2 linked regions of the Homo sapiens genome follow. The protein of the gene in region 2 purifies or fractionates together with the protein of the main gene of each other region. This does not show direct contact. Each region holds a gene or a part of one and is shown on either strand. Other genes may lie near its edges.

Region 1 (4,863 bases), on a different chromosome or scaffold from region 2:
AACTTCTATATATTAGAAATATATATAAATATATACACACATATGTGTATGTGTGTGTGTATATGAGGCTAAATATTTTTTAATTGGATTTTAATTCCTTAACAGTAAGATACTGGCCAGGCATGGTGGCTTATGCCTGTAATCCCAGCACTTTGGGAGGCTGGGGCAGGAGGATTGCTTGAATCACGAGTTTGAGACCAGTGTGGGCAACATAGAGAGATCCCATGCCTATGAAAAAGTTAAAAATTAGCTGGGCATGGTAGCACATGCCTGTAGCCCCAGCTATGTGGGATGCTGAGGTGGGAGGATCAATTGAGCCAGGGAGGTCAAGGCTGCAGTGAGCCATGATTGCACCACTGCACTCCAGCCTGGGCAACAGAGCAAGACTCTTGTTTCTAAAAATAATAACAATAATTTAAAAATTAAAAATAGTAGTCAGGCGCAGTGGCTCACACTTGTCATCCCAGCACTTTGGAAGACCAAGGTGGGAGGATTGCATGAGGCCACAAATTTGTGCCCAGCCTGGGCAACATAGTGAGACTCTGCCTCTACAAAAATCAAAATAAATTTTTGGGGCATGATGGCGTACACCAGCTACTGGGAAGGTGGAGGGAGAAGGACCTCTTGAGCCCAGGAAGTTCAGGCTGCAGTGAGCTGTGTTCATGTCACTGCGTTCCAGCCTGGGTGACAGAGTAATACCCTGCTTTAAAAAAAAAAAAGAACATACGATCCAACAATCCTACTTCTGGGGATATAACCAAAACAATTGAAAGCGCAGTCTCAAAGACCTTGTACACCCACGTTCACAGAAGTACTATTCACAACAGCCAAGAGGTGGAAACAATCCAAACCATATTTAAGAGTTTCAATGGGAAATAATAAAAACAACAAAAAACCGTCTAGGTCTTTCACTTGGAACAAAAAATTGCCAAGTTCCTTAAGTTTTTTTTCCCTCCTCATACTACACACATGCTGTGGTGAACTGCTCAACACTCAGGACAAAAGATGTTAAAGAGAACCATGATCACTCTCAAAGTAGAAAGCGTAGAGCTGAGGCACAGAAAGAATCAGATAGCATTAGTTCCTAAGGGGCGTATATCTGCCAGAGCCACCAATGTGTAATGAATATGGAACACACACACAACCATAATTTTCCTTCTAAGACTACAGATTAAGAAAATAATTCACACAACATGTACACAAAGATTCAGCCATCGCCCGGCCAGCCGCCCCGTCCAGGAGGGAGGTGGGGGGCAGCCCCCACCCGGCCAGCCGCCCCGTCCGGGAGGTGGGAGGCGCCTCTGCCCGGCAGCCCCTTCTGGGAAGTGAGGAGCCCCTCTGCCCGGCCGCCACCCTGTCTGGGAGGTGTACCCAACAGCTCATTGAGAACGGGCCATGATGACGATGGCGGTTTTGTCGAATAGAAAAGGGGGAAATGTGGGGAAAAGACAGAGAAATCAGATTGTTGCTGTGTCTGTGTAGAAAGAAGTAGACATAGGAGACTCCATTTTGTTCTGTACTAAGAAAAATTCTTCTGCCTTGGGATGCTGTTGATCTATGACCTTACCCCCAACCCTGTGCTCTCTGAAACATGTGCTGTGTCCACTCAGGGTTAAATGGATTAAGGGCGGTGCAAGATGTGCTTTGTTAAACAGATGCTTGAAGGCAGCATGCTCGTTAAGAGTCATCACCACTCCCTAATCGCAAGTTCCCAGCGACACAAACACTGCGGAAGGCCGCAGGGTCCTCTGCCTAGGAAAACCAGAGACCTTTGTTCACTTGTTTGTCTGCTGACCTTCCCTCCACTATTGTCCTATGACCCTGCCAAATCCCCCTCTGCGAGAAACACCCAAGAATGATAAAAAAAAAAAAAAAAATTTTATATATATATATATACACACAACTACTTTAAAAAAAAAAAAAAAAAGATTCAGCCATAAGATAGTCACAGCCAGGCTTTTAACAGCAAATAATGAATACAAATGCTCAATAGTAAAAGACACAATGTGTAAGTGAAGATGTATCCACAGGATGAGACATAAAGTTATTAAAAATAAAGAAGTGTTTAAGGTTCAGTGTAGGATTAATTTTGAATTTTTAATGGTATTTAGACGCAAAGTAAAAATTAAATAGCATACGTATGTCAGGTACCTATGTCAGGGGAGATAAGACAGGCAAATAATTAGACAACAGGGAGATAAATGAAATCATGGAAGGTATCAAGGCCCCATACAGCAGGAGGTCATTAATCAGCTGTCTGGAGAGAATGACAGGCAGGACATGACCCGTGGGCTCGGCTCTGAAAGCTGAATAACTGTCACTATGCACATAAGGGTGAAGCACATTTTAGCCAATGGAGCAGCAGAGGCTAAGGCACAGGTGTTGGGCTAAAGGAGCAGCGGCATCGCGTTCTTGGAGGTTACTTGTGTATGCCCTGCAGGGGCACAACGTAGGTAGAGAAGGATGGGTAGCTGATGAGGACAGAGAAGCCGGTTAGGACCCTCAGGAAAATCCCAAGACCCTCTGAACAATACTACATTATATATATACAATATATACAATACTACATTATATATATATATTTTTTTCTTTTTCTTTTTTTTTGAGACAGTGTCTCACTGTTGCCCAGGCTGGAATGCAGTAGTGCAATCTTGGCTCACCTGCAGCCTCAACCTCCTGGGGTCAAGCAATTCTCCCACCTCAGCCCTCTGAGTACCTGGGACTACAGGCACATGCCACCACACCTGGTTAATTTTTTTTTTTTTCTTTTAGATGGAGTCTCACTCTGTTGCCCAGGCTGCAGTGTAGTAGCACGATCTCAGCTCACTGCAACCTCTGCCTCCTGGGTTCAAGCGATTTTACTGCCTCAGCCTCCCAAGTAGCTGGGATTACAAGTGCGCACCACCATGCCCAGCTAGTTTTTGTATTTTTAGTAAAGACAGATTTTTGCTGTGTTGGTCAGGCTGGTCTTGAACTCCTGACCTCAGGTGATCCGCCCGCCTTGGCCTCCCAAAGTGCTAGGATTACAGGTGTGGGCCACAGCGCCTGGCCCAATTTTTGTATTTTTTTTGTAGAGATGAGGTTTCACCATGTTGCCCAGGCTGGTCTTGAGCTTCTGGGCTGAAGTGATCCAACTGCCTCAGCCTCTCAAGGTGCTGGGATTACAGGTGTAAGCCACTGTGCCCAGCCAAATTTTTTTGCTTTCTCTTGTGAAGCAAATGAAAGAAACTATTTTACTTAAGTATGTTACACTAAGATCTGTATATCCTTTTCTAAGAATATAGACTATGATTAAGAAAATGTAGACATCTGTACAATCTATGGCCTAACGCCTCTTTGGAGTTTGAGCTGCTTTGCTGTCATGTTCCTATTAGAAAAGATGAACTCTTTTTACCTAAGAGCAAGTTAGGACTAATGTCACTGCAGGCCCAAAGTCTACCCTAAGGAAGGTAATACAAGGAGTCAGGAAACTTCTCCCCACTCAAAGAAAGTCACTTGGTTGTATCCAGAGAGCTGGGCAGTGTCAGAGCTCAAACCTTTCACTGTCCCTCCCTGATCAGGAGAGCCATACCACCTCTAAGGTCCAAAATATTTTGTTCAGTTGAAGAAACCTGCTCTGAAAATTTGTTTCACTGCCTTTTAAACAGAGAGAAATTACTTCCGATTTTGGCAGTTACTAATGCGGTTAGATTATGAAGTCACCTGTATGCTCCACTGAGAGATGCCAGATTCCTTGGAGTTGGGCTGTTTGTAGATCCAGTAACAACAAAAAATCATTTAAATAAAAATTCACAGAAGAAACGTGTATAACCTACATGAATAGAGAAAAAAAGCTGGAAACCAATTAAACACACAGAGAGCCTCTCCTCCAGGCTCACTGGCCTACTCGGGTCTCTTCTCACCTGAACTAATGCAAGGGACCCTGCAGCAATCAGCCTGACTCTGTTCACGCTCACCCACCCCTATTCCCTGCCCTCTTCAACCTACTCGTCATTTTAAAAAGAAACACACACACACACTACTAAGTTTAAAAAGTGAGGTATGTAACAATGCATTTTGGAATCTAATATTAGCACAGAGATACCTGAGCGTTTAGAATGGTTGCACAGTACTCTATGAAATGACTGCACTGTATACAATTTATTCTACCTCCTATTTATGGTTGCTGTTTTTTTTTATGGTTTTGTATTATTAAGGTTTGGAAAACTCTGTGGACAATTCAGCTTGCCAAGTGTGTGAGTGGGTATACAAAAGATATACATTTTTAATTCCAAGACCTTCCAGAGAGTGTCTAGAGGAAAGGTCTAATTAAACCTGCCCCCACTCACCTTTTTTTTTAACTTTTTTTTTTTTTTTGAGGCAGAGTCTTGCTTTGTTGCCCAGGCTGGAATGCAGTGGTGCGATCTCGGCTCACTGCAACCTCCACCTCCTGGGTTCAACTGATTCTCCTGCCTCAGCCTCCCGAGTAGCTGGGATTACAGGTGCCCGCCACCATGCCTGGCTAATTTTTCTATTTTTGTAGAGATGGGTTATCAACTTGTTGGCCAGGCTGGTCTTGAACTCCTGGGCTCAAGTGATCTGTCCGCCTTGGCCTCCCAAAGTGCAGGGATTACAGGTATGAGCCACTGGCCTGGCCTTTTACAAAAAATTTTAAGTTCTGAGGTACGTGTGCAGGTTTGTTATGTAAACTTGTGCCATGGGGTTTGTTGTACAGATTATTTCGCCACCCAGGTATTAAGCCTAGTACCCATTAGTTATCTTTCCTGATCCTCTCCCTCCTCCCACCCTCCACCCTCCTATGGGCCCCAGTGTGTGTTGTTCCTCTCTATGTGTCCATGAGTTCACATCATTTAGCTTCCACTT
Region 2 (4,863 bases):
AAAACAGAAAGGCTGGAATGTGGCCCTCAAGATTTCTCTCTAAAGTCTGGAAAGATTTCTTTTCTTTTCTTTATTTTTTGAGACGGAGTCTCGCTCTGTCACCCAGGCTGGAGTGCAGGGGCATGATCTCAGCTCACTGCAACCTCTGCCTCCCGGGTTCAAGCAATTCTCCTGTCTCAGCCTCCCGAGTAACTCAGATTACAGGTGCCCGCCACCACGCCTGGCTAATTTTTGTATTTTTAGTAGAGACAAGTTTTCACTGTGTTGGCCAGGTTGGTCTTGAACCCCTGACCTCAAGTGATCCTCCTGCTTCAGCCTCCCAAAGTGCTGGGATTACAGGCGTAAGCCACCGCGCCTGGCCGGAAAGATTTCTTAAGCTCCCCTGATTCCTACCCTGAGCAGGGCCCTTGCAGGCAGTGCTTGGGTATGAGGAGGAGGCTTTTACTGGCAGGACAGCCAGAGTTCAGGCTCTTGATCCAGCTGGAGGTATAAGAAAGCCCACTAAAGAGACAGCCATAGCCATCCTCAGAGAAGGAAACTGATTAGAAATGAAGTTATATTTCTCCCATCACTGTCATCGGCAAAAAAAATTAAAATAAAAAAAATACAACAGCCAGAAGAATAAAAGTACCTTCAAGATCTTTTTTGGGGAAGACAACTAATAAATTTCTGTGAACTCCTTGAGGAAAGCATGAGTAAAGCAAGCAAAGAGCAGAATCTTTTTTTTTTTTCCTGGCCATAGCAGCATCTGACAGAAGTACAAATGCACAGTGCTGAAGTCTTCTTCATCCTAAGGTTGGCTAGGTTGGTTCCTTCAAAGGATTAAAGCTGTTCTTATAAGATATTCCAGATACCCTTTGTGAGAAATCCAAGATGTCAGAAGTGATTGACCATGGATTAGATCTTAATTATTATTGCCCCAACCATGTTGTTGGTAATCAGCCAAAAAAAGACAAAAATCCATGCTCTGCACAGCAATGCACAAGTCACCTCCACTTTGTGAGCAAGTTCTTCTGACAATGGGAAGTACTGTCTAGTTAGTGGGATTTGACCCCTGAAGTGTGGGTGGAGAGATGGAAGAGGGAATGGAAACAAAAGAGAAAACAAGCACTTGGGAGTGGCAGGGGAGGAGAGGCCCAGAAAGAATAGCAAAGGAGGATCTAAATGTCATAACCGAGGCCCTGGTGGTGCACCTATCAGCAACTTGGGAGGCTGAGGTTGAAGGATTGCTTAAGCCTAGGAGTTTGAGGCCAGCCTGGGCAACATATGAAAGATCCCTGCCTCTACTGAAATATTTTAAAAATTAGCAGGGCATGGTGGGCCACACCTGTAGTCCCAGCTACTCAGGAGACAGGAGGACCGCTTGAGCCTAGGAGTTAAGAGGCCATAGTGAGCTATGATTGCACCACTGCACTCTACCCCAAGCGACAGTGAGATCCTGTCTCTAATAATAATAATAATAATAATAATAATAATAAGGGAGTCATAACTGAGCTCAAAGGAACTCAAATTCTGGAGATCAAGCCAGAGATGTGGGGCAGAAGCAGTATATTGTGGTCAAAAGTGAGTACAGAGGACTTTAGAGGAAACTAGAAAATGGGATGGGAGAGAAAAATGAGTGATCAAAGAGAGGTCAAGTGGGGCCAGCAGTAGAGGCCAGCATCTGATTCCTGGTTATAACTTGAGCTCTGCAAACATGCTGAAAATCCCATAAGGTATATGAGGGCACGGTGTAACAAGATACTATCTAGTGTGAGATAATTCAATTAATCACTGTGATTGAAGCTGAGGAACAAAACTTGGGCATTATGAGTAGTAATACAGAACAAGATTAGAGGGAAAAAATGCTAGCAGTTAGTTGGAATGTTCTTCGATTATGTTTATATTGAACAATAGAGAAGCTGCATGACATAGAAAAGAGAGCAAAGAAGTCTGAAAATGCAGGTACCATTTCTGCCATGTTAACAAGCTGTATGTCCCAAGAAAAAGTATTTCCAATTTAGTGTGGGTTTGGAGTGTGTGTGATTATTTTATCATTTGTAAGAATAAAATAATAATAATAAAATAATAAGGGTAACTGCCTCAAAGAATTGTGAAGGCTAACTTGGTAATGTGCATTTAAACATTTTGTCAAATTGATCTTTTAAGCATAATAGAAACAGGATTGAGATAAGAATTAAAAACTTAAACATTTTGTGTAAAAAATGCTAATAATCAAAATAATAACTACCATTTAGTAAATGCCTATAGTGTGTTGGATGTAAACCAGATGCTTTGGAAACCTTATTTAATCTTCACAATCACCTGAAACTTGAATATCTTTATCCCCATTATACAGGCAAGGCTCAGAGAGGTTAAGGAACTTGCCCAGGATCATTCCTTTAAAAAGACCTTATTACTCACAAATGAAGTAAACAAATAATATTTAGTTTGTTTCATAGTTTCCTTAACTATAAATTGTAAAACTCTAACTCCCAGAAACAATAAGGAAATAACTGAAATAGGCAATACCTTTGAATTTCACAATTTTTTAATTTTACAAGGTAAAAAAAACAAATTTTAAAATTCTGTTGGGTAAATTGGAACAGTCTGGACTGGAGTTGGGGCAATAAAAAAACTTTAAATCTAACCTGTCCCAACACTTAAATGCCTTAACTTTGGAAATATTTCTGGGAAAAAAAGTTGATGAGAATATCTTGCCTTGTAAGTAAAAAATTGACTAATTGATTCATAAACTGAGTCAATTTTGTTACTTTTTGGCAAATTAAAAAATAAAGCTCTTGTTTACTTACCTAAAAGAGCCACGTCCAGCTCACTGGAATAAAACATCGCTGTCGCAAAACACAATCTAGGTCCCTTAATCCTGCCTTTTTTGATCTTAAAAGGTGGTAACATTCAGTTCGGAGCTCACTCATCTGTAAATTGCATCACATTATCTCTGAGTTATTTAAGAAGCAAGCTCTGTTTGGTTTCAGGCATTTTTAACCTGCTAAAGGCAAGAAGAAGTGTTCACCACATAGTTGCAAAGGTCTTCAACTTGCCACAGCCAACAGAAAAATCAAAATGATTGAACCCTTTGGGAATCAGTATATTGTGGCCAGGCCAGTGTATTCTACAAATGCTTTTGAGGAAAATCATAAAAAGACAGGAAGACATCATAAGACATTTCTGGATCATCTCAAAGTGTGTTGTAGGTAAGATATTTTTTAAGGTATTGGCATTAGGAATACATTTTTGAAGCACTTTCCCCTAAATTTTCTAACTTTCCAACTCTCCTTTCTGGCTCTAGTCCACAGCCTACAGTCCTTTCCTCTTTAGTTTCCAAACCTCCTACTCCCTGACAGAGTTGGAAAGGTAGTGTCTAAAATGAACCCCATCTCGGCTTATCAACACGGTCTTTCCAAATCAGACAACTAACAGATGGGGACAGAGGAAAATTCTCATTTGAAATATTGCATGATTTGAGCTGAGGATGACAAATAGGTCTATTATGGTTAAAGAAAAGCAAGCATTTTAAAAAATCCTTTGTTGGTGACCAGAGGGCAGCTGATTATGGGTAAAGAATGTTACTGGGAGTGAAATTACTAGTTTAATCTTTAGCATATTACCATCTTTACCAATTTCCCACCGACAGGTACTAAACTTAAAATTTGATATTAATTGACTGACCTGTGGCTTTCCATGTTTTCAGCTGTTCCCCACAAAAGGCCAAGAGAATTGTCCTCTCTTTGTTCCCCATAGCATCTTGGTTGCCAGCATACCGGCTTAAAGAATGGTTGCTCAGTGATATTGTTTCTGGTATCAGCACAGGGATTGTGGCCGTACTACAAGGTAAAATTTTTTTTAAGTATAATTTATATACAATAAAATTCTTCCTCTGAATGTGTACAGCTCAGGGACTTTTCGTATATTCACTAGGTTGTGCATCTGTCACCACTATCTAATTCTGGAACATTTTCACCACCACCAACCCCTAAAAATCCCTTACCCATTAACTTCACATCCCCCCTACCCTTTCTCTGTGGATTTGCCTCTTCTGCATATTTCATGCAAATGAAATAATACAATACATGGCACTTTGTGTCTGGTTTCTTTCACTCACCGTAATGTTTTCAAGGTTGATCCATATTGTAGCATGTATTGGTACTTCATTCCATTTTATGGACAAATAAGTATTCTGTTGTATGGACATATCACAATTTTTTTATCTGCTCATCGGTTGATGAACATTTGAGTTGTTTCCACTTGGGGGCTATTATGAGTTATGAGTAATGCTATTTTGAACATTTGTGTACAAATATTTGTGTGAGCATGCTTCAATTTTCTTGGGTATATCACTAGGATTGTAATTGCTGGATCATAGGGTAACTCTATATTTAATCATTTGTGGAACTGCTAACTTATTTTCTAAAGTAGCTACACCATTTTACATTTCCACTAGCAGTGTATGAGGGTTCAGATTTCTCCATATCATCAACACTTGTTATTGTCCATCTTTTTTCTTTTAGCTATCCCAGTGAGTGTGAAGTGGTATCTCATTGTGGTTTGCATTTGCATTTCTCTAATGACTAACAATATTGAATATTTTTTCCAGGTGTTTATTGGCCATTTGTATATCTTTTGAAACATGTCTATTCAAAGTTTTTATCCATTTTTAAATTGGGTTATTTGTCTTTTTGTTGTGGAGTTGCAAGTGTTGTTTCTATATTCTGGATACCAGACCCTTGTCAGATATACAATTTGCAGATAACTTTTTTATTCTGTGAATTATTGGTTAACTTTCTTGATAGTATCCTTTGAAGTACACGTTTTTAAATTGTGATTAAGTCCAGTCTATCTGTATTTTTCATTGGGTGCTTATGC

What was found. The genes of interacting proteins can lie anywhere in the genome.
Region 1: the proteins of SLC26A3 (region 2) and SLC25A51 purify together in Homo sapiens (affinity purification with mass spectrometry; one large-scale study listed by BioGRID and IntAct). This does not show direct contact.

The regions. Positions count from the first base shown.
Region 1 is NC_000009.12:37,889,989-37,894,851, forward strand, and holds part of SLC25A51 (mitochondrial nicotinamide adenine dinucleotide transporter SLC25A51), read right to left. Parts: intron 1-4,863. UniProt on the Homo sapiens protein: Mitochondrial membrane carrier protein that mediates the import of NAD(+) into mitochondria. Mitochondrial NAD(+) is required for glycolysis and mitochondrial respiration.
Region 2 is NC_000007.14:107,792,710-107,797,572, reverse strand, and holds part of SLC26A3 (chloride anion exchanger), read left to right. Parts: intron 1-2,975; 5' UTR 2,976-3,063; coding exon 3,064-3,194; intron 3,195-3,691; coding exon 3,692-3,831; intron 3,832-4,863. UniProt on the Homo sapiens protein: Mediates chloride-bicarbonate exchange with a chloride bicarbonate stoichiometry of 2:1 in the intestinal epithelia. Plays a role in the chloride and bicarbonate homeostasis during sperm epididymal maturation and capacitation.